Linked DNA regions of Homo sapiens. The protein of the gene in region 1 purifies or fractionates together with the protein of each later gene. This does not show direct contact. Each region holds a gene or a part of one and is shown in the gene's direction. Other genes may lie near its edges.

Region 1 (7,056 bases):
CCCCAAACTGCTCACAGGCAAACCCACCCTGCATGCTCTGGTTTCTCCTCCTCTTCTTCCACCTCCTCTCACTGTCTAGTGATTCTTCCAGGCACGAGGGCTCTCCCCTTTTCTCCTCTTTCTCTCCCTCTTTTTCGAGCCCGCAGCCCCTTCATTCTCATCCCCCAACCCTGCCCCGCAAAATGGGACTTAAGAGTACACACCCCATGGGACTCATGGAGGTGAGGGGGGTCCAGGAAAGGAGAGGCCGAGGGAAAAGTGCTAATCCCCCTCTCCTCCTCTCTGCTGCCCTGGGTCCTGCTGAGGGGCCGGGGTGGGGCTGGGGGGGGAACCAGCCCCCCAAGGGGTGACAACCTCATGACTTCTCCTGGATCCCTGGGCTCTTTGGCAATGGTGGGAACCCTCCCCTACCCGCCCACACGACTCAGGGATTGCTCCCAGCCTGGCAGACATTCTGCCTGTCCCCACAGAAAATCACAGACAGGTGCTTCCACCACTCTGAGTGCTACAGTGGCTGCTGCCTCATGGACTTGGACTCCGGTGGAGCCTTCTGTGCCCCCAGGGCCAGAATAACCATGATCTGCTTGCCCCAGGTGAGGCCCTAGTATGGGGCAACTTCTGGCAAGTAGAGAAGCGGGCAGGGAGGTTAAAAAAAAAACACCTGGCCCCACCTGTTTTTTCACCTCTGTCTGGAGTGCCCTTCTTCTTCTCCACTTGGCAAACTCCTACTCATGGTGCAAAACAACTCCAGCCACCTCCTCTGAGAAGGCTTCCCTCCTTGGAGCTCCTGTACCCTGGGGTCAGACCCTCAGCAGACCATGTATCTCCCTAACTGGCCATGTCTTTTCTCTGCCTCTCCCAGTGGTTGGAACTCTTCAAGGGCAGGGATCGCATCATATTCATCTATGAAGCACCTACCCCCAGCTTAGTATCTGCACATAGTAGGTGCTCAATAAATGCTTATTGTTGTTTGTTTGTTTGTTTCGAGATGGAGTCTCGCTCTGTCACCCAGGCTAGAGTGCAATGGCATGATCTCGGCTCACTGCAACCTCTGCCTCCTGGGTTCAAGCGATTCTTGGGCCTCAGCCTCCCGAGTAGCTGGGATTACAGGGGTGCACCGCTATGCCTGGCTAATTTTCGTATCTTTGGTAGAGATGGGGTTTTGCCATGTTGGCCAAGCCGGTCTTGAACTCCTGACCTCAGGTGATCCACCTGGCTCGGCCTCCCAAGGTGCTGGGATTATAGGCATGAGCCACCGTGCCCGGCCAATAAATGCTTGTTGAATGAATGAATATCTCTTCTCTCACACCACTGAGGCAGGGTAAGTAGGAAATGACCTTCCCCTTACTAGTCCCCATCTCCCTGCCACAGTGACATGATTTCTTGAGAGGAGCATGGCACTGCAGTGGCAGGACCACAGCTTTGCAGTTGGACCTGAGTTTAAATCCTGACTTTTCCACACCCTATCTTTGTGACTTCAAGCAGGTCATCATGGCTCTCTGAGCCTTAGTTTCCTCATCTACAAGGAGAGGCTAAAGTACCTACCCCACCAGGCTGTTGGGAAGATTATGTGGTCCTGGCAAGGAGAGTGTGCAGTCCAGCATGGTTGTCACTCGCTTTTAGGAATGCAGGGAGCAGAATGCTCAGTACGCCCTGTTCCTGCCCACCTGGCCCTGGGCCCAAACCTTTCTAGGATGGATGGACCCAGCCTCTATGTCCCTGTGTGGGGAGTTGCCAATGCCCTAAGGAAGCAGCAGGGCCCCTACCATGGCCTGACCCTATAGCTGAAGTGGCTAGAGGGTTTTTATTTTTTTTATTTTTTGAGACAGAGTTTTGCTCTTGTTGCCCAGGCTGGAGTGCAATGGCGTGATCTTGGCCCACTGCAACCTCCACCTCCTGGGTTCAAGCAATTCCTCTGCCTCAGCCTCTGGAGTAGCTGGGATTACAGGCATGTGCTAATTTTTATATTATTAGTCCATGACCATGTTGGCCAGGCTAGTCTCAAACTCCTGACCTCAGGTGATCCACCCGCCTCGGCCTTCCAAAGCGCTGGGATTACAGGGGTGAGCCACCGCGCATGGCCTAAAGGGTCTTTTTATTATCACCACTTGATCTGCTCTATCTCATTTAGTCCTCACAACAACCCTATGAGGGGGGTTACTATTACTGTCCCCATTTGACAGATGAGGAAACCGAGCTGGAGAGGTTCATTGACTTGCTGAAGGTCACGCAGTTATAAGCTGTAGAGACAGCCCAGGTCTGTCTTACTCCAGGCCTGGTACTCTTGGTTCTGGTCCCCAAGAAGTTTAAGTCCCCATCCTTCCTGCATCCTGGTGACTCCCGATTCTCATACCCACTCCCTGCAGACCAAGGGAGCTACCAACATCATCTGCCCTTGCCGGATGGGCTTGACGTGCATATCCAAGGACTTGATGTGTTCCCGCCGGTGCCATATGATTTAGAGGAAGATGCAGGCTGGTCACTGCTCCCTTGGGGCCATAGGCCCTGGTTGCCACCAACTTGCTCCAAATCCAGCTCCTGAGACATTAAAGTCACTTCCTGTCCTTGGCCTCTGTCTGTACTTTCTGGGCGAGGGGACCTGGTGGAGATTGTACCAGTCCAGGGGGCAGGCAAAAGGGGAGACTGGAGGCATGAATGAGCTTCTAATGGGATTTGGCCCTGTCCGGAGGTCAGGGTAGAACTGCAGGAAGGGAATGGCACAGGGAGGGTGTGGTGGAGCAGGGGCTGGGTCTGGGAAAGGGCTGATTCTCTGGTTGGAGGGCTGTGTGGGAGAGACGGGATTGAGGAATGTACCTGGAGAGTGTATGTTGGGGTGCCTATGGAGGGGTGTGTGGTAGGGAGAGACTAGGTGGAGGTATCTGAATGTTTTGCGGGGCGGGTTGTGGGGCACAAAAGGGTAGAGATCATTAGAGAGTTGGTGAGAATGTGCAAAGTATAAATGCAGAAATGCCTGTGGTGGGAAAGGGACCTGGTGCATGGATGCCTCCGCTCTCTCAGGTATTGTCGGTTCACTGCATGGACAAAGAAACTGAGGCCCAGAGAAGCGACATGACTTGCCCTAGGTCATATCATTGGGGTAGCAGTGAGGCCTCTTTCTGCTGCAAGTATCTTAAAAACCAACTCAAATTGGTCTAGGTGAGGAGGGGATTTACTGGTGATGGGAAATGAAAGTCCAGAGGTCAGGCAACCCTTAGGTAGGGCCAGAGCCAGCAGCTCTCAGGCTGAATTCCTTCCCAGTAGTCACAAACATTCCAGGTGTCACCTAATAACAGGTAGGATTTATTGAGCACTTCCTATGTGCCAGACACTGTGCAAAGTGCTTTCTTTTTCATTTAATTAAAAAATTTAAGACAGCACCCAGGCTGGAGTGCAGTGGCTCGATCGCAGCGTACTGCAGCCTCAACCCCCTGGGCTCAAAAGATCCTCCCACGTCAGCCTCCCAAGTAACTGGGACTACAGGTGTGTGACACCATGCCCGGCCAATTTTTTTTCTTTTTCTTTTTCTTTTTTTTTTTTTAATAGAGACAGGGCCTCACTGTATTGCCCTGGCTGGTCTCAAACTCCTGGGCTCAAGTGATCCTCCTGCCTCAGCCTCCCAAAGTGCTGGGATTACAAGCATGAGCCACTGCGCCTGGCCCAAAGTGCTTTCTTAACTGTATTGACTCATCTTTTTGTCACAACAGGGCTATAGTAGGTGTTATAATTATCCCTATTTTACAAACAGGGTATCGAGGCTCCTAAAGTAAGGGTTGGAACTGAGACTTGAACCCAGACAATCCTGCCCCAGAGGCCAGGCTCTTAACCACAAATCCACCATGTACATCAATACTGTGCCTTTCAGAGAAAGAAAACATCTCTGTTCCACAATTTTCAGCAAACATCCTAAGATCGGTTCTGATTGGATTGGCTTAGTCTGCCTGAACTAATTATTGTGGTGGAATTTGCTGATTGGCCTAGCCTGAGTATTGTGCAGGATGGGAAAATTCTGACGGGGTTGGGTGCTGGTTTTACATGGTGTTCCCACAGCTGGGAGGACACCCACATGGTCGGCGTGCAGGATATTTCGCTGGACCCTAGAAAAGCCACCACGACCTGTGGGCCATGATGCTACCCCAATGGCTGCTGCTGCTGTTCCTTCTCTTCTTCTTTCTCTTCCTCCTCACCAGGGGCTCACTTTCTCCAACAAAATACAACCTTTTGGTAAGAAAGCTGGAGAGTGCAGTCACCTCCCCCTCCACTGTCCTAAGGCCTGTACTATTTGGGGAGGTGAGCGGGCATGGGGGCTAGTGTGGGAGAAGGCCAGAAGTGGGGGCAGCAGGGAGTGTTGGGTGGAAGATGTCTCGGAGGAAAGAGAGAACAACCTGGTCCTGGAAGCTGTGCCAGGGCAGTGCCAGGTGCTGCTGCCACAGAGGTGAATGTGAGAGAGCCCCCCTGCCCATGCGCACATGTGGTAAGGGAGACAGATATTCACTCATGCAACACATTTTTATTGAGCACCTACTATATGTAAATTATTTTTCTACATTTAGTGATAGGGCTGTGAGCAAGAAAGATAAAAATCCTTGCCCTTGTAGAGCTGTCACTCTAGTGTGTGAGGCAAAGAAGTAAAACATTACAATAGATGCTATTAATAATAGCATCTATCTCAGGTGATAAGCAAGGAAAGGGAAAATAAGAATCGAGCTGTGGGAGTGGTGGTGTGAGAAGGGTTTGCAGGTGTTTTTTTTTTTTTTCTTTTTCTTTTTCTTTTTTTTGGGACAGAGTCTTGCTTTGTCACCCAGGCTGGAGTGCAGTGGGGCAATCTCGGCTCACTGCAAACTTAGCCTCCTGAGTTCAAGCGATTCCCCTGCCTCAGCCTCCCGAGTAGCTGAGATTACAGGCACCCACTGCCACGCCCAGCTAATTTTTTTTTCTGTATTTTTAGTAGAGACAGGGTTTCACCGTATTGGTCAGGCTGGTCTTGAACTCCTGACCTCAAGCAATCCACCCGCCTTGGCCTCCCAAAGTGCTAGGATTACAGGCGTAAGCCACCGCACCTGGCCAGGGTTTGCAGTTTTAAATGGGGTGCTCAGGGAAGAGTTTACTAAGAATGTGAAATTTTAGCAAAGACCTAAAGGGAGGGAAGTCCTTCCTAACCGGCAAAGCAGGGGGGTCTCTGGGAGAAGAGCATTCAAGGTGGAGGGAACAGCCAGGGCAAAGGTCTGGGGGCGGAAATGTGCTGGCATATTCAAGGAATAGCAAAGAGGAGTAAGAGAGAGTGGAAATCATGGGAGATGAGCTCAGAGAGATAAATGGAACACAGTTACAATATTCTCATTTATTCAACAGTTATGCATTCAGCACCTGCAATGTGTAAGGACTTTAGTCCAAGGGGGCTAAGAAATATAGCAGTGAACGTGAGAGCAGAAGATCCATGTCCCAGAGCTGAGGTTGCTAGCGGGGGAAATAAATTATTTTTAAACATATAAATAAGATGATTTCAGAGAGTCATAAGTGTTGTGAACAAAGTACAACCAGGTGATGGGGACTGCTCTGCTGGTGTCCAGGAAGTCTTCAGCCTGAGGCAGGAGGGGGAGGCAGCCGGGCAAAGAGTGCAGGACAGGGTGCTCTGGGCAGAGGGCCAGCAAGCGCAAATGCCCTGGGGCCAGGCCAGGTGTGGATTCAGAGCCCCAGTGATGGCTTTGAATCCAGAGAATGGCATTGTGGGAATTATCTTTTAAAAAAGACTCCTCTAGCTATTCTGGGAAGAACTGACTTGAGGAGGTTGGGGAGGTGGAAGTGAGAGTGGGGATGGTGAGGGGGTACCTGGGGGAGGTCACTGGCAAGGATGGAAGCAGGGAGGCCGGGAGGCGGCTATAGCCAATCCTCCTTTCCTGCCTTATTTTCTTTATAGCACATAATCGTACATAATAGGATTATACATATATAATATAAATATTACTTATTGTTATGTATATAACATATGTGGTAAAAATCACACCTTACTAGGTGCTCAGATCTTGAGTTTACATGGAAATCAATGGATTCGAACCTATGCAGACCCCCTCATCACTACCGTCAGAACAAGATATAGGACATTTTCATTACCCCAAAAGCCTCACTCTTACTCTCCTAGTCAATAGCACCAAAGGCAACTGTCTCCTGACTTCCATTATTATAGATTAGTTTTGAACTTTGTATGATGAAATCACACAGTATGTACTTTTAAAAAAAAATTTGGGCCAGGCGCAGTGGCTCACGCCTGTAATCCTAACACTTTGGAAGGCCGAGGCAAGTGGATCACCTGACGTCAAGAGTTCGAGAACAGCCTGACCAACATGGTGAAAGCCCATCTCTACTAAAAATACAAAATTAGCTGGGTGTGGTGGCACATGCCTATAATCCCAGCTACTTGGGAGGCTGAGGCAGGAGAATTGCTTGAACCCGGGAGGCAGAGGTTGAACTAAGCCAAGAAAGTGCCATTGCACTCCAGCCTGGGCAGTAGAGTGAGACTTTGTCTCAAAAAAAAAAAGGGGGGCTGGGCGCGGTGGCTCATGCCTGTAATCCCAGCATTTTGGGAGGCCGAGGCAGGCAGATCACGAGGTCAGGAGATCAAGACCATCCTGGCTAACACAGTGAAACCCTGTCTCTACTAAAAATACAAAAAAAATTAGCTGTGCGTGGTGGCGGGTGCCTGTAATCCCAGCTACTCAGGAGGCTGAGGCAGGAGAATGGCGTGAACCTGGGAGGCACAGCTTGCAGTGAGCCGAGATCGCACCACTGCATTCCAGCCTGGGCGACGGCGAGACTCTATCTCCAAAAAAAAAAAAAAAAAAAAATCTGACTTATTTTGCTCAACGTTTTTTCTGTGATACCGTATCATTTCACTTATGTATCTCTTCCCTGTCTTCCCTCTCTAGAGCTGTGTGTGTCCAATAGTGCAGTTACTAGTGTGAACCCAAAATATCTGAGACAGGTCTCAGTCAATTTAGAAAGTTTATTTTGCCAAGGTTAGGGACACACCTGTGATACAGCCTCAGGTGGCTGGGGTGCACC
Region 2 (7,026 bases), on another chromosome or scaffold:
TATGTATGGGAGAGGTGAGGAGAAGGCAGAATATTAGCTTATTTTGAGCTAGGAATTATCAGTAGAGGCCACTTTCTCGTGCAATATTTTTGTAGATAATAAATACAGTTGAATGAATGATTATTATAAAGCTTTGTATTTTATATTTGTTAAATGTTAATTAGGTTGTGTTTGAATAGTTGAGATGTTTAAGATGTCAGGAGTTCGAGACCAGCCTGGCCAACATGGCAAAGCCTCGTCTCTACTAAAAATACAAAAATTAGCTGGGTGTGGTGGCACATGCCTGTAATCCCAGCTACTCGGGAGGCTGAGGTAGGAGAATCACTTGAACCCAGGAGGTGGAGGTTGCAGTGAACTGAGGGCAGGGCCTGAGAGGTGGCAGTTCTTTTTTTTTTGAGGCAGGGTCTTGCTCTGTCCCTAAGCTGAAGTGCAGTGGCATGATCACAGCTCACTGCAGCCTTGACTTCCCAGGCTCAAGCGATCCTCTCACCTCAGCCTCCCAAGTAGCTGGGACCACAGGTGCCCATCATCACACCTGGCTAATTTTTATATGTTTTGCAGAGATGGGGTTTCGCCATGTTGCCTAGGCTGGCCTCAAACTCCTGGGCTCCAGTGATCCTCCTGCCTCAGCCTCCCAGAGTGCTGGAATTATAGACGTGAACTACTACAAAAGTTTGCATTTCTGTCAAAACCCACATAATGCTGATGCTGCTGGTCTGTGAACCACAATTTGAGAACTACTGGTCTAAGACATAGTCCTTACTTTTAATTAATCTAATAATGTTTTTGGAGTGTCTTTGACTGTGTTGACACTGGGGAAATGACAGATAGTAAAATAGATGTGACCTCTGGCATTTTTCATCTCATGTATATAGAGTAATTTTATTTTATTATGTATTTATTTATTTATTTTGAGATAGGGTCTGGCTCTGCCGCCTAGACTGGAGTGCAGCGGCGTGATTACGGCTCATTGCAGCCTCAAACCCCTAGGCTCAAGCAGTCCTTCCAGCTCAGCCTCCCAAGTAAAGCTAGGACTTCAAGTGTGCTCTATTATGTGCAGCTGATTTTTTGTTTTTGTGTAGAGAAGAGATCTCCCTGTGTTGGCCAGGCTGGTACCAAACTTCTGGCCTCCAGGGATCTTCCCGCTTTGGCCTCCCAAAGTGCTGGGATTACAGGCACAAGCCACTGCATCCAGCCTTCATACAGTAATTTTAAATGTGAAGAGTTTTAATATATCTTGAGTGTGCTGAAAAAGGACAAGTTGATAGCTGGGCATGGTGGTGCATGCCTGTAGTACCATCTGCTCTAAAGCCTGAGGTGGGAGGCTCACTTGAGCCCAGCAGTTCAAGGCTGCATTGAGTTATGATCATGCCACTGCACTCCAGCCTGGGCAACAGAGCGAGACCTCATTAAAAAAAAAAAAAAATAGAAAGGAAAGAAAAGAGAAGTTGTGGAATAATGGAATGGAATAGTTAGGAGTAGCTTTGCAGAGGGTCTTACTTTCAAGTAGAGAACTGAGGGATTAAATTGTAGGAGTTATGTAAAGAATAGTCCAGATAGGCTGGGTGCAGTGGCTCATGCCTGTAATCCCAGCAGTTTGGGAGGCCGAGGTGGGTGAATCACCTGAGGTCAGGAGTTCAAGACCAGCCTGACCAATATGGAGAAACCCCGTCTCTACTAAAAATGCAAAAATAAGCTGTGCATGGTGGCAGGTGCCTGTAATCCCAGCTACTCGGGAGGCTGAGGCAGGAGAATTGCTTGAACCCGGGAGGTGGAGGCTGCAGTGTGAGCTGCGATTGTGCCACTGCACTCCAGCCTGGGCAACAGAGTGAGGCTCCATCTCAAAAAAAAAGAAAAAAAAAAAAAAGAGTCCAGACAGAAGGAGCAGCATGTGCAAATGACCTGTGGTGATACTCTCTCTTGCCTGCCTAACTCTAACATATCCTGGAGTTCTCCATTCAAGGAACTCAGGGAAACGCTGTCCAAAAAACCTAGGTCACTCTCCTCTTTATTATGTAGCACTTTTTCATAGAATACATAGCAACAGGAATTTTATATTTCTTACTGTAATTATTTGATTAGAGTCTCTTTCCATGTCCAGAATATAAAAATCATTGATAAAGAGATGATTTTTGACCAGCTCCTAAGGGCTAGGTGATGTTCTAGGCACTGTGATTACAGAAGTGAAAAAAAGACATGGGGTACAGGGAGGGGATACACAATAAATACACCTATAAATGTATAATGACAATAGTTATATAATAAATACTAAGAAAAAATAAACCAGGCTAAGATATAAAGTGATATTGTGTGTGTGTGAGAGGGCAACTATTTTAGATGGGATGGTTAAGCAGCAACACTAATAGCTTTTATTTATTTATTTATTTTTGAGACAGGATCTCACTCTGTCACCCAGGCTGGAGTTCAGTGGTGCAACCACGGCTTGCTGCAGTCTCGACCTCCCAGGCCCAAGCCATCCTCCCGCCTCATCCAACTCAAGCAGCTGGGACTACAGGCGTGCAGTACCACGCCAGGCTAATTTTTGTATTTCTGTAGAGATGGGGTTTCACCATGTTGCCCAGGCTGCTCTCAAACTCCTGGACTCACGTGATCTGCCCACTTTGGCTTCCCAAAGTCCTGGGATTACAGGCCTGAGCCATCGTGCCCAGCCTATTTTTTTCTTATGACAGTGACATTTTGAACTAAAAAGATGGAAGTTATTATTAGTATCAGTAAATGTGTTCTTGAAACTTGAAAAAGGATGTGTGTAGGGGAATCAATAAATAAATTGAAATCCCTTCCAAGCTTATGCTTTTGAACCATAAGTCTGAGCAGTCTCAGGCCAGTATGAATCAGAGTTATTCAGAAGCACAAGTGGAGAAATGTCCTACAATAGGAGGGAAATCTTACTAAATTTCCTTCTTGCTTAAAAGAAAATTATATCTTGTATACAGAGATTAAATATTAACACTAGTGGCATTCTGTATCTCCCCCTATTATTAGACATATAATTTATTAGCTGACTAAAATTCTAAATTAATAATTTGGCCGGGTGTGGTGGCTCACGCCTGTAATCCCAGCACTTTGGGAGGCCAAGGCAGACGGATCACGAGGTCAAGAGATTGAGACACTGTGATTACAGAGGTTAAAAAAAGACACCCCGTCTCTACTAAAAATAGAAAAACTAGCTGAGCGTGGTGGCACACACCAGTAGTCCCAACTACTCAGGAGTCTGAGGCAGGAGAATCGCTTGAACCCGGGAGGCAGAGGTTGCAGTGAGCCGAGATTGTGCCACTGCACTCCAGCCTGGCGACAGAGCAAGACTCTGTCTCAAAAAAAAAAGGCCACCCTGGCCAATGTGGTGAAACCCTGTCTCTACTAAAAATACAAAAATTAGCCGAGCGTGGTGGCGGGTGCCTGTAATCCCAGCTACTCCGGAGGCTGAGGCAGGAGAATCACTTGAACCCGGGGGGCGCGGAGGTTGCAGTAAGCTGAGATCGAGCCATTGCACTCCAGCCTGGGCAAAAAGAGTGAAACTCCATCTCAAAAAAAAAAAATTATTAACCCAACATAGGAGGTTATTTTCCTTAGATAAAGCTCATGCGTGGAAGCAATTGTATACAAAGACAGAATTATTTCCTATTTCAGTAAAATTTACAAACAAGCCTCAGCTAGTTCTCTGTAGGATCATCATTCTAGTCATTTTCAGAGTATCTTGCATTGAATTTCTGTACGTAAAATTATCTTAAGTTACTGAGAAAGTTTTATCAGATTTTACTCTGTGGTAAAATTTGTATATCAAACCTTTTATAGGTTCCCTGATTTCAAAATAATAGTAATATCTCTTAAATAGAATGTTAGTTTTTATTCTTTTTTATTAAATGTGTTTGTTCTAGAGGTCATGCTTAATGATTTCCAAGAGTATATTTTTTGTATAGTTTTTGTGAGGCTGGGCATGGTGGCTCACGCCTGTAATCCACATCTATAATCCCAACACTTTGGGAGACAAAGGTGGGTGGATTGCTTGAGCCCAGGAGTTCGAGACCAGCCTGGACAAGATAGTGAGACCCTATCTCTACACAGAATGAAAAAATTAGCGCACATCTGGGGTCTCAGCTACACAGGATGCTGAGGTGGGAGGATTGCTTGAGCCTAGGAGGTTGAAGCTGCAGTGAGCAGGGTTCACACCACTGCACTCCAGGCTGGGCAACAGAGCAAGACACTGTAAGATCAATCAATCAATCAATCAGAGATATCTTGATGTATCATTTAAGAATCATGATCAGATAAATGTACTCATTCTTGTATTTCATCATCAATGTACTTATATTTCTTGTCTTTAACAGTTTGTTATACAAAGAAAAGCTACTGCATTCAGTGTTCAGATTAAGTTATAACAATGCAATGACTTTATCATGAGCCATTCTCCTAATTCCCACTAATTGACACACATTCAGTAGATAAATTGTTGGATACTCTCAAACTATTCTATTTTTATAAAGGAGAAAATTTTAGATAATTATTAAATATTCAAAAATATACAAATTGAAATAGACATAATTTTTTTTTGTTTTGTTTTTTCATAGTGACAGGGTCTTGCTCTGTGGCCCAGGCTGGAGTGCAGGGGCGTAATCATAGCTCACTATAACCATGAACTCCTGGGCTTAGATGATCTCTTGCTTCATCCTCCTGAGTTGCTGGGACCACAGGCATATGCCAGCATGCCCAGCTAATTTTTTTTATTTTTGTAGAGGTAGGGTCTAGATTATGTTGCCAGGCTGGTCTCAAACTCCTGGGCTCAAGTGATCCTACTGCCTCAGCCCATCAAAGTGCTGGGATGTCAAGCCATGAGCCCGGCAGACATCAATATTGAATGTAATGATGTGAGCCTGTAGATGAATTGGGAAATGCTGGCTAAAACACTGCTTTTTTCATAGGTCCTAAAACTAGCTCTTAAAGTATATTTAATAAGCGGTAGAAATAGTCATTATTAACAATGGAATAAAAGGTTTTTTTTTTTAAAGAGTCTCAATCTGTTGCCATCTCAAAAAAAAATAAAAAATAAAAAATTAGCTGGGTGTGGTAGCGCATGCCTGTGATACCAGCTACTCAGAAGGCTGAGGCAGGAGAACCACTTGAACCTGGGAGGCGGAGGTTGCAGTGAGCCGAGATCGCGCCATTGCACTCCAGCCTGGGCAACAAGAGTGAAACTCTGGCTCCAAAAAAAAAAAAAGTGATTTGGCAGTATGAGTTCAAGAACCACAAAATTGTACACACTCTCTGACCAATTTTCTTTTTCTTTTTCTTTTATTTTGAGATGGAGTTTCGCTCTTGTTGCCCAGGTTGGAGTGCAATGGTGCAATCTGGGCTCAACACAACGTCCACCTCCCGGGTTCAAACGATTTTCCTGCCTCAGCCCCCCGAGTAGCTGGGATTACAGGCATGTGCCACCGTGCTCAGCTAATTTTTGTATTTTTGGTAGAGACAGGGTTTCTCCATGTTGGTCAGGCTTGTCTTGAACTCCTGACCTCAGGTGATCCGCCCGCCTTGGCTTCCCAAAGTTTTGGGATTACAGGTATGAGCCACTGCGCCCGGTCCAAATCACTTTTTTTTTTTTTGAGACGGAGTTTCTCTCGTTGCCCAGGCTGGAGTGCAATGGCGCGATCTCGGCTCACCGCAGCCTCCGCCTCCCAGGTTCAAGCGGTTCTCCTGCCTTAGCCTCCCTAGTAGCTGGGATTACAGGCATGTGCCACCATGCCTGGCTAATTTTGTATTTTTAGTAGAGAGGGGTTTCTCCATGTTGGTCAGGCTGGTATCGAACTCCCAACCTCTGGTGATCCGCCTGCCTCGGCCTCCCAGAGTGCTGGGATTACAGGCATGAGCCACCGTGCCCGGCCCAAATCACTTTTCTAAAGCACTTTGAAGAACAATATGTCTTCAGCACTTAAGTATTTCTTTGACAAACTTAATGCTACAAGTATTATTCTCACACTAAGTAATTGTGATTAAGATTTTTCAGGCTCATAAATGAAAGAAAAAGAAATTGTATAGTAACTAGGCAAGGGTGGAATGAGAAAAGACTGGAGGCGTGCCACTCTTCCTACTCAGAATTTTTTTTATTTTGAGACAGAGTCTCTCTCTGCCACCCAGACTGGAGTGCAGTGGCGCGATCTCGGCTCACTGCAGCCTCCGCCTCCCGAGTTCAAGTGATTCTCCTGCCTCAGCCTTCTGAATAGCTGGAACTACAGGCGCCCACTGCCATGCCCGGCTAATTTTTGTATTTTTTAGAAGAGATGGGGTTTCACTATGTTGGCTAGGCTGGTCTCGAACTCCTGACCTCAAGTGATCTGCCTGCCTTGGTCTTCCTACTCAGAAGTTTTAAATTCCTCCCTATTGTCTGAGACAATAGACCCTGTGAAGATACCTTTTTAACACTGAAAACCTTGAGAGACAGGACAGTAACATACTTTCAGAACATATTAATTGTGGGGGAGAAAAAGCAAAAAGCAGGTCCAGTAGGAATTCAGTAATATTTTAAAATGATACTCTGTTAAGTCTAACATCTATTATGCATTAAAAATATCAAGATATTATTGTGTACAGAGTGTACTTGATATGCATGGGAATTTGTGAACTCCTTAAGATCCTTGTGGAGCCTGCAGTTTCGGCCCTGCTAGTTTACAGTGGTCTTACAGGGCTGCTGTGCTATACAGATTGTACTGCACAATTCAGCTAACAGCCATTCATATAGACAGCAGTGAATCTACAGAGATCTGTATCCTGTGTACTTGGTGATGTCTAGCACATAGTAGGGACTCAGCAAATAGTTGTTGAATGAAAGTGTTTTATTTATTTATTTATTTATTGAGACAGAGTTTCTCTCTGTCACCCAAGCTGAAGTGCAGTGGCGTGATCTCAGCTCACTAGAACCTCTGCCTCCCGGGATCAAGTGATTCTCCCACCTCAGCCTCCTGAGTATCACAGGCATGCACTACCATGCCCAGCTAATTTTTTTCTTTTTCTTTT
Region 3 (6,582 bases), on another chromosome or scaffold:
TAACAAGTATAAAACATAAAAGGCAGACCAGGAAAAAACATTTGCAGCACATATAAACAGGCAAAGGTTTACTGTCCATAATTCTTTAAGTCAAGAAAAAGACAATCTTAGCTGTGCATGGTGGCTCATGCCTGTAATCCAGCACTTTGGGAGGCTGAGGTGAGCAGATCACCTGAGGCCAGGAGTTCAAGGTCAGCCTGGCCAACATGGTGAAAGTCCATCTCTACTAAAAATACAAAAATTAGGGTCGGGCACGGTGGCTCACGCCTGTAATCCCAGCACTTTGGGAGGCTGAGGCAGGCAGATCACGAGGTCAGGTGATTGAGACCATCCTGGCTAACATGATGAAACCCCATCTCTACTAAAAATATAAAAAATTAGCCGGGCATGGTGGCGGGCACCTGTAATCCAAGCTACTCAGGAGGCTGAGTCAGTAGAATCGCTTGAACCCAGGAGGTGGAGGTTGCAGTGAGCTGAGATCACGCCATGGCAACAGAGCGAGACTGGCAACAGAGCGAGACTCTGTCCTTCCCCACACACAAAAAAAAAAATTAGGCCTGGCACGGTGGCTCAGGCCTGTAATCCCAGCACTTTGGGAGGCCAAGGCTGGCGGATCACAAGGTCAGGAGATTGAGACCATCCTGGCTAACATGGTGAAACCCCGTCTCTACTAAAAAAAAATACAAAAAATTAGCCAGGCACCGTGGTGGGCACCTGTAGTCCCAGCTCCTCGGGAGGCTGAGGCAGGAGAATGGCATGAACCTGGGAGGCGGAGCTTGCAGTGAGCCATGAACCTGGGAGGCGGAGCTTGCAGTGAGCCGAGATCACGCCACTGCACTCCAGCCCGGGCCACAGAGCGAGACTCCGTCTCAAAAAAAAAAAAAAAAAAAAAAAAAATTAGCTGGGTGTAGTAGTATCGCACACCTGTAATCCCAACTACCTGAGTGGCTGAAGCATGAGAATCACTTCAACCCAGGAGGCAGAGGTTGCAGTGAGCCAAAAATCACACCACTGTACTCCAGCCTGGGCAACAGAGCAAGACTGTCTCAAAGGAAAAACAGTCATGTAGAAAAATAAGATGAGAATATAAACCAGCAATTCCTAGAAATAAACAAATATAAAATAGACTCTCTTTCACCTCGTGGTTTACTACATCATATTAAAGTAATTGGGATCTGCTGATGAAAAGATAGCATCTTGAATATTTAAGTTCTATCATCTTAACCCATTGTTTTCATAAATAAAATTAGTAAAGTTATCTCACCTCATAGTTATTGGATAGTAGTACATCATGGGGTTTTTTTAAGTTTTTGTTTGTTTGTTTTGTTTTTAAATAGAGCTGGGGTTTCTCAATGTTGCCCGGGCTGGTCTTGAAATCCTGAGCTCAAGCTTTGGCCTTCCAAAGTGAGGGATTATGGGCGTGAGCCACCGCGCCTGGCCTAAAGTATTTTTTATTTCAATAATAATATATGTCTGTTGTAGGCCAGGCGTGGCGGCTCACACCTGTAATCCCAGAACTTTGGGAGGCCGAGGCGGGCGGATCACAAGGTCAGGAGTTTGAGACCAGCCTGGTCAATATGGTGAAACCCCATCTCTACTAAAACTACAAAAAATACAAAAATTAGCTGGGTGTGGTGGCACGTGCCTGTAGTCCCAGCTATTCGGGAGGCTGAGGCAGAAGAATCGCTTGAACCCAGGAGGCAGAGGTTGCAGTGAGCCGAGATCACACCACTGCACTCCAGCCTGGGCGACAGAGTGAGACTCTGTCTTAAAAAAACAAACAAACAAACAACAACAACAACAACAACAAAATATATATATATATGTATATATATCCATTGCAGAAAACTTCAAAATATAGAAAAGTGCAAAAAAGAAAAAAAAAAATCACATAATTTTACCACCTGGAAAGAAATACTTTTTGTTTCCTTCCCATTCTACAAAAAGCCATGTAAAGAAACATTTTTACAAGTTGTTTCCATATTAAAATTTTGAAAATAAAAATGGCAAAAAACTTTCGTAATGTTTTATAAATTTTCTCCCCACTTAATAATGTCATGTTGATTAATATTCTAATACATTGTTAATGACTGCATTATTACATTGTATGGGCAGTCAATCATTTATTTAACCAATCCTCTGTTGTTGAACATTGAGGATATCTTTTGAATGTGTTATCTCTATATAACAAATAATGTGCATATGAATGTGTCCGTGTAAAGGAGAACTTGTAGTTCATTGAATGTGTCTAGGTCATGATTAGAATAGGCAGAGTTGTGCTGTATCAGGGAAAATAAGGGTACTGCTATTGATAAGAGCCCATTTTAGGTATAAAGATAACTGTAACAGCTGGGCACGGTGGTCCACACCTATAATCCTAGCACTTCGGGAGGCTGAGGTGGGTGGATTGCCTGAACTCAGGAGTTCGAGACCAGCCTGGGCAACATGGTGAAACCCCATCTGTACTAAAATACAAAAAAAAAAAAAAAAAAAAAATTTAGCCAGGCGTGGTGGCGTGCACCCGTAGTCAGCTACTTGGGAGGCTGAGGCAGGAGAATTGCCTGAACCTGGGAGGCTGAGGTTGCAGTGAGCCAAGATGGTGCCACTGCACTCCAGCCTGCGACAGAGCAAGACTGTCTCAAAAAAAACAAAAACGAACAAAATAAAGATACCTGTAACACCCATTTGCCTTCCTACTCAGAGCTGCCATACTAGCATCATTCCTAGGTGAGATTTTTTTTCCCCCACACATCTGTAGCCTCCAGAAATAGATCAGAATATTTTAGGCACCTTTACTTTAAGCTATTTTCCCATCTCCTATTCCTTCCTGCTTCTGGCTTCTCATTATGGCTGGTTTTTTGTTTGTTTTGTTTTGTATTTTAAAGAGCTTAATAGTGATCCTGGACCAAGGAATCTGTGTGTTTACTTTCTGTCAGAAAGCATCTCCATTGTGTTGTGTAAAGTAGCCTGTATGACCATTTATATCACCTCTTTTATTTGACAGATACAGAAAATTGAAGGATTAATATCATACCGAGACCCTCATTTTTGGCGTCATTCTGCTAGTATTGTGGCAGGAACAATTCATATACAGGTGACATCTGATGTGCTAGAACAAAGAATAGTACAGCAGGTAATCTTTTGTTTTTAAAGTAATTTTAATTGAGGTCATTCATACCCAAAATTGTACACCTCATAAGTTATATGGCTCAGTAGTCATTTACTATTCAGAAATATCAATCTTCCAACTCTTTTTTTTTTTTTTTTTTTGAGACAGGGTCTCACTCTGTTGCCCAGGCTGGAGTGCAGTGGCGTGATCTCGGCCCACTGCAACCTCCGCCTCCTGGGTTCAAGCAGTCTCCCTGCCTCAGCCTCCCAAGTCGCTGGGATTATAGGCACCCGTCACCATGCCCGCCTATTTTTGTTTGTTTGTTTGTATTTTTAGTAGAGATGGGGTTTCGCCATGTTGGCCAGTCTAGTCTCAAACTCCTGACCTCAGGTGATCCGCCTGCCTCGACCTCCCAAAGTGCTGGGTTTATAGGCAAGCCATCATGCCCGGCCTAATCTTCCAAATCTGTAACGGTAATATAGCTTACTTTTTACATCTAGATTTGTTTTATATCTAAAAATTGCTAAAATAAATGAAGTTTTGTGTTTAGAGGATAAGCTTTAATTAATATAAAAAAATTCATTTATGAGTTTGATTAATCTTGGTTTCCAGTAGATTATCAAAAAATAAGTTATTATAAATATATTCCTAAATTAGTAATAATCAACTTGGCAGGGTATATGCTATGTTTGGAGATAGAGGTCAGAATAGTTACTAAAGCCCTGTTCTAGATGTGCCAAATTGGAAACAATGGCTGTTTTCCTTTTCTACTGTGAATGTCAAATCAGTAATTTACTGACCTAAAAGAGTCTAATATTTTAACTAACTAAATGATGAATATTACTTCGAAGATTTATCTTGGACTACTGTAACTGTTTGTTTGTTTGTTTACTCATTCATTTTAGAGACAAGATCTCACTATGTTGCCCAGGCTGGTCTCAAACTCCTGGGCTCAAGCGATCCTCCTGCCTCAGCCTCCCTGGGCCACTGTGCCTGGCCTGTAACTATTTTAAAAATGTGACACAGGTTTAATATTCCTTATCTAAAATGCTTGGAACCAGAAGTGTTTTCGATTTGCGATTTTATTTTTTTTAATACTCGCATTACGCTTACCAGTTGAGCATCCCTAATCTGAAAATCCAAATCCAAAATGCTCCAATGAGCATTTCCTTTTAACACCATCTTGGCACTCAAAAAGTTTCAGATTTTAGAGCGTCTCAGATTTCGTATTTTCAGATTAAAGATACTCAACCCGTATCAACTATGTACAGCATATTAAGACGTGTGTACTAAATGCATTACTCTAAATGCTTCAAAATATCTGGATTTTTATAACAGGTTACAGGAATACTTAAAGATGCTGGAGTAAACAATTTAACAATTCAAGTGGAAAAGGAGGCATACTTTCAACATATGTCTGGCCTAAGTACTGGATTTCATGATGTTCTGGCTATGACAAAACAAATGGAATCCATGAAATACTGCAAAGATGGTACTTACATCATGTGAGATAACTCAAGAATTACCCCTGGAGAATAAACAATGAAGATTAAATGACTCAGTATTTGTAATATTGCCAGAAGGATAAAAATTACACATTAACTGTACAGAAACAGAGTTCCCTACTACTGGATCAAGGAATCTTTCTTGAAGGAAATTTAAATACAGAATGAAACATTAATGGTAAAAGTGGAGTAATTATTTAAATTATGTGTATAAAAGGAATCAAATTTTGAGTAAACATGATGTATTACATCATCTTCAAAAATAGATATGATGGATTCTAGTGAAGACCAAAATTACTTCTGTTTACTTTCTATCAGGAAGCATCTCCATTGTAAATATGTATTTACATGTTTATTACAAAGACCCAAATGAAAAATTTTTAGTCCATTTTTTGCATAGCCTAAAGATAAAATAGGAATAAAAGTTCTATATTTATGGATTTTCTGTATATAAAACTGGTTTCTAATTATAACTTAAGTCCATTAAGTAAAATCTGTATTGCCACTTTAAATGTAAACTAAATTATTTGGGAGAAACTTCAACCACTGATATGAGATAAGCAATGAGAATAGGGAAGTGTATAACATCACAGTTTTTGATGTATTACAAAAATCAACCACTCTATAAAATAAATTTTTTTTACTTTTGGTAATATTTGCAAATGAATAATTAATTTATTAGGGTAAAGAACTTATACTAAGTTGTGTCCATGTTATTCATTTACTTACCATGTTCCTTTAAAGTAGAATATTTCCTTTCTTGTTATATATTTGACATTCCAAGCTGCTTATCAAGCTGGTATCCAAGCAGTGGTAAGCTTTCATCCTTTCTTAGCTCCATAACGTTGTGAAACAGCCAGTTAAGAGAATCGTAAATAATTGTCAACTCACAGTTGAATTCTCTGCCTATGTAGGTAACTTTTTTCTAATTTCTGGAACATATAGATATATAAGAAATATCAAAGAATAGGTAGTTATTTCAAAGTTTAATAAGTAAAACTTGTTCATAAACATTTGAGCACCATGAAATCAAAATACCCTATAACTACTTTCTATAGTCATATCTAATTTATATTTTTTTCATTTCCAGTTGTAACTAGATATGTAGTAAAGTCTGAAAAGACTTTACCATAGACAATAACATGCAGTTTTATCAGCACCAAAGAATGTTGTCCAAAAGAAACTTTTTAATACCTGTCTTTCTATTTATAACATCTGAATATTTTCATTCTTATATTAAGAATTTTGATAAGTAGATTGAATTTAGTATGAGTACTATTTTCTTATATATACCACAATGGCAAACATGTATTATAAATCATATTTTTGTCTTACCAATTTTAATATATGAGGGGTTTTAGAAATTTGTTGTAAGTTATTTTTATATTCCTTGTCTTTTGCATATTTTTTGGCCAAAATCTTCAATACATATTAAAATTTTTGAGTGGTGGGAAAATAATTGCATATTGATGTTTTAATGCAATTTTTATACATTAAAAAATTAAGTAGATAGGTGCAATAAATATTACACCAAAGTTAAAATTGTCATTTCCCTTAGAAGACATATAAACAGCAAAAAAATTAATGTGATTGTGAGATATTAGAGTGAGAGAGAGCAGGGGCTGAAGGTTGGGGAGGTACAATTATAAAGTATGGAAACTCTAATATTGAAAGCACCAGGGTACTGTATTTCAGCTCATGCAAATCATGCAACTAGGCCAGGTGCAGTGTCTCTTGCCTGAAATCCTGGCACTTTGGGAGGCTAAAGCAAAAGGATAGCTTGAGCCCAGGAGTTTGAGAACAGCCTGAGCAACATAGCAAGATTCCATCTCTACAAAAATTTTTAAAAATTAGCTGGGGCATGGTGGCACATACCTCTTGGGAGGCTGAGGCAGGAGGATTGCTTGAACCTAGGAGGCCAAGGCTGCAGTGAGCCATGATGGCACCACTGCTCTCCAGCCTGGGTGA
Region 4 (7,749 bases), on another chromosome or scaffold:
CTTCAACATGTCAATTTTGTGGGAACACAGTTGAGTCCACAGCAGTATCTCTCAAAGAGAAAAAGGTTTTAATTTGGGTGAAAGCCAGATTATCATTTTTTAAGGGTCATTCTTTTCATAGCTACGAAATCTATACCTAACCAAAGATCACAAAGATTTTTACCTATATTTTCTTGTACAAATTGTATACTTTAGATGTTTTTATTTAGGTCTACAATCCACTTTGAGCTAATTTTTATATATGGTGCCAATTATAAATCAAGGCTTTTTGTTTACATTTATGTCAACTTGTTCCAGCACCATTTGTTAAAAATACTATCTTTTCTTTATTGAATTGCCTTTGCACATTTTTCAAAAATTAATTTATATATGGATATATACATATATATGGATCTATTTCCAGTCCATTTTGTTTCACTGATCTATATGTCTATGTTTTTACCAACACCATACTCTCTTGATTACTGTGGCTTAATCCTAAGTCTTGAAATCAAATGGTGTGAACCCTCTAAATGTTTTCTTTTTAAAAACTGTTTCTATTATTCTAGTTATTTGTGTTTCCATACCAATTTTAGAATCAACCTATCTATTTCTACTGGAAAGGGAAGCCTTCTGGTATTCTGATCAGGACTGCATTGAATCTATATAAATTAATTTGTAGAGAATTGATATTTTAACAATATTGAGTCTTCTGATCCATGAGTATAATATTTCTCTTCTTTTACTTAAGTATTTTATTTTCTTCAGCAACATTCTATCAATGAAAAGAGTCCAACTCTGGCAAACTACGCATCTGACAAAGGACTAGTATGCAGAATCTACAAGGAATGCAAACAAATCAGCAAGAAAAAAACAAACAATCCCATCAAAAAGTGGGCAAAGGACATGAATAAACATTTATCAAAAGAAAATATACAAACAGCCAACAAACATGAAAAAATGTTCAACATCACAAGCATCAGGGAAACGCAAATTAAAACGTGAGATACCACCTTACGCCTGTAAGAATGGCCATTACAAAAAAGTAAAAAAACAATAGATGTTGGCCTGGATGTGAGGAAAAGGGAACACTTTTACACTGCTACTGGAAATGTAAACTAGTACAACCACTATGGAAAACAGTATAGACATTCCTTAAGGAACTAAAAGTAGAACTACCATTCAATCCAGCAATCCCACTACGGAATATCTACCCAAAGGAAAATAAGTCATTACATAAAAAACACACATGCGGCCGGGCTCGGTGGCTCACGCCTGTAATCCCAGCACTTTGGGAGGCCGAGGCAGGCAGATCACGAGGTCAGGAGATCAAGACCATGGTGAAACCCCGTCTCTACTAAAAATACAAAAAAATTAGCCAGGCGCAGTGGTGGGCGCCTGTAGTCCCAGCTACTCAGGAGACTGAGGCAGGAGAATGGCGTGAACGTGGGAGGCGGAGCTTGCAGTGAGCCGAGATTGCGCCACTGCACTCCAGCCTGGGCAACAGAGTGAGACTGTCTCCAAAAAAAAAAAAAAAAAAAAAAACACATGCACATATAGCAGCACAATTTGCAATTGCAAAGACATGGAACCAACCTAAGTGTCCATCAACCAACGAATGGATAAAGAAAATGTGGTATATATACACCATAAAATACTACTCAGCCATAAAAAGGAACAAGATAATGTCTTATGCAGCAACTTGGATGGAGCTGGAGGCCATTATTCTAAGTGAAGTAACTCAGGAATGGAAAAGCAAATATTGTAAGTTCTCACAAGTGGGAGTTAAGCTATGAGGATGCAAAGGCATAAGAGTGATACAGTGGGCTTTGGGGACTCGGAGGGGAAAGTTTGGAGGGGAGTGAGGAATAAAAGACTACATATAGTGTACACTACTCAGGTGATGGGTGCACTAAAATTTCAGAAATCACAGCTAAAGAACGAATCCATGTAACCAAAAACTTGAAATTAAAAAAAAGGAAGAAGTCAAACTCTGTAAAATAGTTGAAGGGATGTATTCTGAGCCAAATATGAGTGACCATGGCCTGTGACACAGCCCTTGGGAGACCCTGACAACATATGCCCAAGGTGGTTGGGGAGCAGCTTGGTTTTATACATTTTAGGGAGACATGAGACTTCAATCAAATACACTTAAGATACAGATTGACCATTGGTTTGGTCCAGAAAGGCGAGACAACTTGAAGTGGGGCAGGGGTTCCAGGTTATAGGTAGATTTAAATTTTTCTGATTGGCAATTGGTTGAAACAGTTATTATCAATAGAAAGGAATGTCTGGGTTAAGATAAGACGTTGTGGAGACCAAAATTTTATCATGCAGCTGAAGCCTCCAGGTAGCAGGCTTCAGAGAGACTAGATTGTAAATGTTTCTTATCAGACTTAAGGTCTGTGTTAATGTTAAATGCTAGTTGGCTTTTCCTGAATTCCAAAAGAAAGGTGGCATAATGAGGCATATCTGACCCCTGCTCTGTCATGGCTTCAACCAGTTTTTCAGGTTAACTTTGGAGTGCTCTGGCCAAGAGGAAGGAGTCCATTCAGATGGCTGGGGGTGGAGGTGCTTAGAATTTTATTTTTGGTTCAGTTTTATAGTCTTCTGTATACAAGTGTTCCATATCTTTTGCTAAATATATTTCTAAGTATTTTATGTTTTTTATGGTATTATAAATGGTATTGTTTTAAAAATTTACTTTTCAATTGTTCATTGCTAATATATAGAAATATAATCAATTGTGTATATTAACCTTGAATCCTACGACCTTGCTAAACTTATTTCTTCTAATGGCTTTTTAATTAATTCCTCAGGATTGTTTTAAAAAAAAAAGACGGTTACTTATTCCTTTCCAATTTAACTACGTTTTATTGATTTTTAAATTTTATGAGTTGTGCTAACTAGAATCTCCAGCAACATGATGACTAAACGTGCTCAGAGTGGATACCCTAGCTCCTCCCAAATCTTGTCTTTCACCAAGATAAGGCTAGGCTAGTGCTATGGCTGCCATAACAAAGTATCAAGCCATAACAAAGTATCAAAGATTGTGTGGCTTAAATAACATAAATTAATTTTCTCACAATACTGGAGGCTAGAATTCTAAGATCAAGGTGTCAGCAGACTTGGTTTCTTCTGAGGCTGCTCTCCTTGGCTTGTAGACGGCTGCCTTCTCCCTGTGTCATCATACAGTCTTCCAATAGAACACAGTCTGGGTTCTAATCTCTACTTCTTGCGAGGACACCAGTCATAACATTAGAATAGGGCCTACCCTAGTGGCTTCATTTTAACTTGATCCTGTCTCCAAATGCTGAGGTACTGGGGGATAGGACTTCGACATAGGAATTTTGAGGGGACACAATTCAGCTCAAAACAGTCATTAAATATGATGTTAGCTGTAGGTCTTTGTAGATGCCATATATCATGTTAAAGTTTCATTTTATTTCTAGTTTGCTCAGAGATTTTGTGGAGTTTTTTTAATCACAACTGAGTATCGGATTTTATTAATTTTTTTCTGCATCTATTGAGATGATTATATGTATTTCCTTTCTCCCTCTGTTAATATGCTGAATTACATTGGCTTTTCAAATATTAAGCCAACCTAGTATTTCTGGGATTAATCTCATTGTTCAATATATTATCCTTTTTATATACTACCATTTTTTGAGAAGATATTGTAAGTACCTTTGTAATGAATGTGAATGTTGATAGTGAGGAGAGATGCTGTGAAAAGCTTAATACCCATTTAGTATAACATGGAGAGTAAGCATATTACTTAGAAATAAGTAGGCAAATATCAGAAATACAGTTCAAAGAGTTAAAAGTGATTGTTTCTGAAAGTAGGAGGGTCAGGTTGCTCTTGTTGCGGTTTTTGCACCATTTTACTTCTTAAAATTATAGCTATAGGTCAGGCGCAGTGGTTCACGCCTGTTATCCCAGCACTCTGGTAGGCCCAAGTGGAAGGACTGCTTGAGGACAGGAGTTGGAGATCAGCCTCGACAAAAGACCGACAGCCCACCTCCACAAAAAAAAAAAAAAGAAAGAAAATTAGCTAGCTTGGTGAAAATTAAAATAAAATAAAATTACCAGTATGTGCACATTACTTTGGTAGAAGTAAAAATAATGAGAAAGAGAGAAAACCCTCCCAGTAACTAGTCATTTGTTTTTATGATTCAGCTGGTTTGTATTTTGCATGGTGCATGGTGTGCAAACATCTGAAAATGTCTGTTTTCCACTGTTTGTAACTAACTCTTCCCAGCATGATTTATCAATTAGCCTTTATTTCCTCCCATGACTTATGAATATACCTTAAGCATAGTTGTTTATAATGGGATGTTTCTAAACGACCTATCCTTATCCTGGTACCACGCTGATTTGAGCTACAGGGCAAATGGGTGCACCATGGTGGGCGAGGTCATTCACGGAAAAAAGAATGTGCAGTGGTGCCGAGGTTGGTAAGAGCAGGCGGCTTGTACATGTAAATGCATGGTTTGCAGGAATCTGGGAGTGGATAGGCTGACGGGTGATGAATATTCAAAGCACAACTGTAAGCGACTTTAGTTACAGCGAAACTCTAAGGCACGCTGCCCTTCGGAAGGAAACACGGCATTCCCCAACCTGATAGCCCTCCGCGACGCATTACGCACCGCGGACAGCTGGAGAGGCCGAGGCGCTCTCGCTTTGATTTCGGCGCCTCCGCCCTCGCGGGGAGAGATTGGCTGCGGCCGCGGGACGGGGTAGTGAGCGCGTCACTTCCTGCCGCTGCCAGGCGCGTCCTCCCGCGCGCTATGACGGCCAGCGCACAGCCGCGCGGGCGGCGGCCAGGAGTCGGAGTCGGAGTCGTGGTGACCAGCTGCAAGCATCCGCGTTGCGTCCTCCTGGGGAAGAGGAAAGGCTCGGTTGGAGCTGGCAGTTTCCAACTCCCTGGAGGTCATCTGGAGTTCGGGTGAGCAGCCGCGGACGCGAGGAAACCGGGGCGTGCGCAGAGGGACGAACTCACGCCGTGCTTGCTTCCGTGTGCCGTGCGTGAGAACGTCCGCGCTGACGCTGCGTCCTTTCTTGCGCGTTCCCTCGGTTCCTCCCCTCGACTTCTGGGCGACGTAGGATCGCGCCCAGGAGGGGGCGCTGTGCTGGGTCAGGCGAGGTCTTTGCTAGCTGGGTCTTTCCGGCTGCGCCCCTGCTGGGTGGTGGTTGGGAGTTCGTCTGTGAGGTGTGTTTCTCACAGCTTACACACAAAAGGAGGAAAGCAGGTGTGTGTAAACCTCCAGCAGCCCGATATTGTCAGCTAAGACATTGCACCGTTTCCATGTGATTGATTGATTGATCGATTGATTGATTTGAGACTGTGTCTCGCTCTGTAGCCCAGGCCAGAGTGCAGTGGTGCTATCTCCAGTCACTGCAACCTCCGCCTCCTGGGTTCAAGCGATTTTTGTGTCTCAGCCTCCTGGTAGCTGGGATTACAGGCGCCCGCTACCACGCCGTGCTAATTTTTGTATTTTTAGTAGAGACGGGGTTTCGCCATGTTGGCCAGGCTGGTCTCGAACTCCTGACCTCAGGTGATCCACCCGTGAGGTCAATGACCATAGCCAACATTGAGCTCTAATGGGCTTTTTGTTAAAGGCTGGATAATATGCCAAGCTCTTTGCATGTATACTTTCATTTGATCTTTACATAACTGGCATACTCAGTGGGCTAAATTTGATGGGAGAACAAACAGGAAATGGTTTTATTTTCTCCTTCCACTGCCTTCAAACATGATTTTTTCTTTCCCTCTTCAGTGACGTTTCCTGCAAATTCTATAGTTTTCTTGTCACTTGGTTATAAAAATAAATCACATTTGGGTCAGTATGATTCACTTCCAAGCATTTAAAAGTCCAATCCAATTTAAACCTTCAGTGTCACTTCCAGTTTCTAATCCCTCCCCTGCAGTGCATAAAGGAGGTGTGAGCCATTGTTCTGCTTTTCTGTATCCTCCTCCTCTTCTCACCTGGCTGTCTCTGAGTTTCCTTCTTTCTCCAGTGTGTTGGAGGAGGAGAGAGAGCAAGCCATTCAGGTGACTGATGCTGCTCTGATCCATCCATTGGTGTCCTCTGGGCATGATATCCACATGTGTGCTTTCTCAGGGTATGTTTGTCAGTTGTTGGGAAGTCCCACAGAGATTTTCCTGACATAGGTGACGGGCTTTCTGTGATGCTGGCCCACCTCCTAGCTCTTGCTTTTAGCACATCACCCCACATTTTCTTTCTACTGGGATCTCCTATTTGATTACCCAGCAGTCTCTTGTGGCATCTGCTTGGCCCAAAGGAAACACACAATGGGAATGATATTTCCACTGCTGCCCTTTTTCCTTGCTCTACCTCTGTATTCATCTGCATCTGGAAACTCCGAGGGACACATTTCAGATTTACCCAAGAGCTTTCACCCTTGTAGCACACCTTTTCTGATGCACTGGGGTAGGCCTGTGAGTTTCTGCAGCTCAGGATGTCTTTAGCAGGGGAGTGACACACTGAGTATCTCCTTCTTGAGTCACTCCCAATCTTGTGACTGATTCTCTTGGAATGTTCCTCACCTGTCTTGGGGGGGCAGAGTTGGCCCCTTGTAGTCTGGAAGGGAAATGCTCCTACTAGGCTGAAAACTCCAAACTTTCCTCTGTCTCAAACATCTCCTTTTTTTTTTTTTTTTTTTTTTTTTGAGACGGAGTCTCGCTCTGTCACCCAGGCTGGAGTGCAGTGGCGGGATCTCGGCTCACTGCAAGCTCCGCCTCCCGGGTTCACGCCATTCTCCTGCCTCAGCCTCCCAAGTAGCTGGGACTACAGGCGCCCGCCACTACGCCCGGCTAATTTTTTGTATTTTTAGTAGAGACGGGGTTTCACCGTTTTAGCCGGGATGGTCTCGATCTCCTGACCTCGTGATCCGCCCGCCTCGGCCTCCCAAAGTGCTGGGATTACAGGCGTGAGCCACCGCGCCCGGCCTCCTGTCTTTCTTATGTAGCCTGGATACGGAGAAGTCACAGGTCTAGTCTGGCCTTCCTTAGCTTGAGCTTGAGCTCAGATGACATCTGTTTGCCCTTTTGCTTGAGAATTTAGAAGTGCTTTTTACCTATTGTCTTCAGTTTTGAGGCTTAAATTGAAATTCTGAGACTGCTGGAAAAGACATAGTGGCACTTCTTGATACAATTACAGTGACCCCATGAGGAAGTAATATAATCTCTTTTTACTTGTCCAAGGTGGAAAGTAATGAACTTTGAGCTCAATCCCAGGTCTAGTTGACTCCAAAGTCTGCTCTTAATGCACTAAACTGCCTCCTTGTTACACACAGGTTCCAGGGCTGTAAATTAGTGCTGAGATGGCTAAATGTTAATTTTTATTCAATATTAAGTCCTTTTCATCTTTAGATAACTAGATACAGGATATAATGTCAAGGGCAAGGTTGCTGATTTACTGGTTTTAAATCTTTATCTTTTTAATTAATTATTATTACTATTTTTTGAGACAAAGTCTTGCTGTTTGTCCAGGCTGGAGTGCAATGGCACCATCATGGCTCACTGCAGCCTTGACTTCCCAGGCTCAAACTATCCTCTTGCCTCAGCCTCTTGAGTAGCTGGGACCACAGACCATAGGCACGCACCACCATGCCCGGCTATTTTTTTTTTTTTTGAGAGATGAGGTCTCACTATGTTGGCCTCAGCTGGTCTCCAACTCCTGAACTCAAGCTGTCCTCTTGCCTCGGCCTTCCAAAAGATTACAGACATGAGCCACATGCCCAGCT

What was found.
Region 2: the proteins of CLPSL1 (region 1) and ZYG11B purify together in Homo sapiens (affinity purification with mass spectrometry; 3 studies listed by BioGRID and IntAct, with this or other methods). This does not show direct contact.
Region 3: the proteins of CLPSL1 (region 1) and SLC30A5 purify together in Homo sapiens (affinity purification with mass spectrometry; 3 studies listed by BioGRID and IntAct, with this or other methods). This does not show direct contact.
Region 4: the proteins of CLPSL1 (region 1) and NUDT15 purify together in Homo sapiens (affinity purification with mass spectrometry; 3 studies listed by BioGRID and IntAct, with this or other methods). This does not show direct contact.

The regions. Positions count from the first base shown.
Region 1 is NC_000006.12:35,776,989-35,784,044, forward strand, and holds the start of CLPSL1 (colipase-like protein 1 isoform 1 precursor), read left to right. Parts: upstream 1-4,030; 5' UTR 4,031-4,122; coding exon 4,123-4,221; intron 4,222-7,056. Other genes in the region: CLPSL2 (colipase-like protein 2), read left to right, coding at 471-593, 863-941, 2,367-2,542.
Region 2 is NC_000001.11:52,729,432-52,736,457, forward strand, and holds part of ZYG11B (protein zyg-11 homolog B), read left to right. Parts: intron 1-7,026. UniProt on the Homo sapiens protein: Serves as substrate adapter subunit in the E3 ubiquitin ligase complex ZYG11B-CUL2-Elongin BC. Acts to target substrates bearing N-terminal degrons for proteasomal degradation with the first four residues of substrates being the key recognition elements.
Region 3 is NC_000005.10:69,125,000-69,131,581, forward strand, and holds the end of SLC30A5 (proton-coupled zinc antiporter SLC30A5), read left to right. Parts: intron 1-3,004; coding exon 3,005-3,133; intron 3,134-4,447; coding exon 4,448-4,618; 3' UTR 4,619-6,070; downstream 6,071-6,582. UniProt on the Homo sapiens protein: Together with SLC30A6 forms a functional proton-coupled zinc ion antiporter mediating zinc entry into the lumen of organelles along the secretory pathway.
Region 4 is NC_000013.11:48,032,978-48,040,726, forward strand, and holds the start of NUDT15 (nucleotide triphosphate diphosphatase NUDT15), read left to right. Parts: upstream 1-4,748; 5' UTR 4,749-4,769; coding exon 4,770-4,927; exon of another isoform or gene 4,928-5,015; intron 5,016-7,749. UniProt on the Homo sapiens protein: May catalyze the hydrolysis of nucleoside triphosphates including dGTP, dTTP, dCTP, their oxidized forms like 8-oxo-dGTP and the prodrug thiopurine derivatives 6-thio-dGTP and 6-thio-GTP.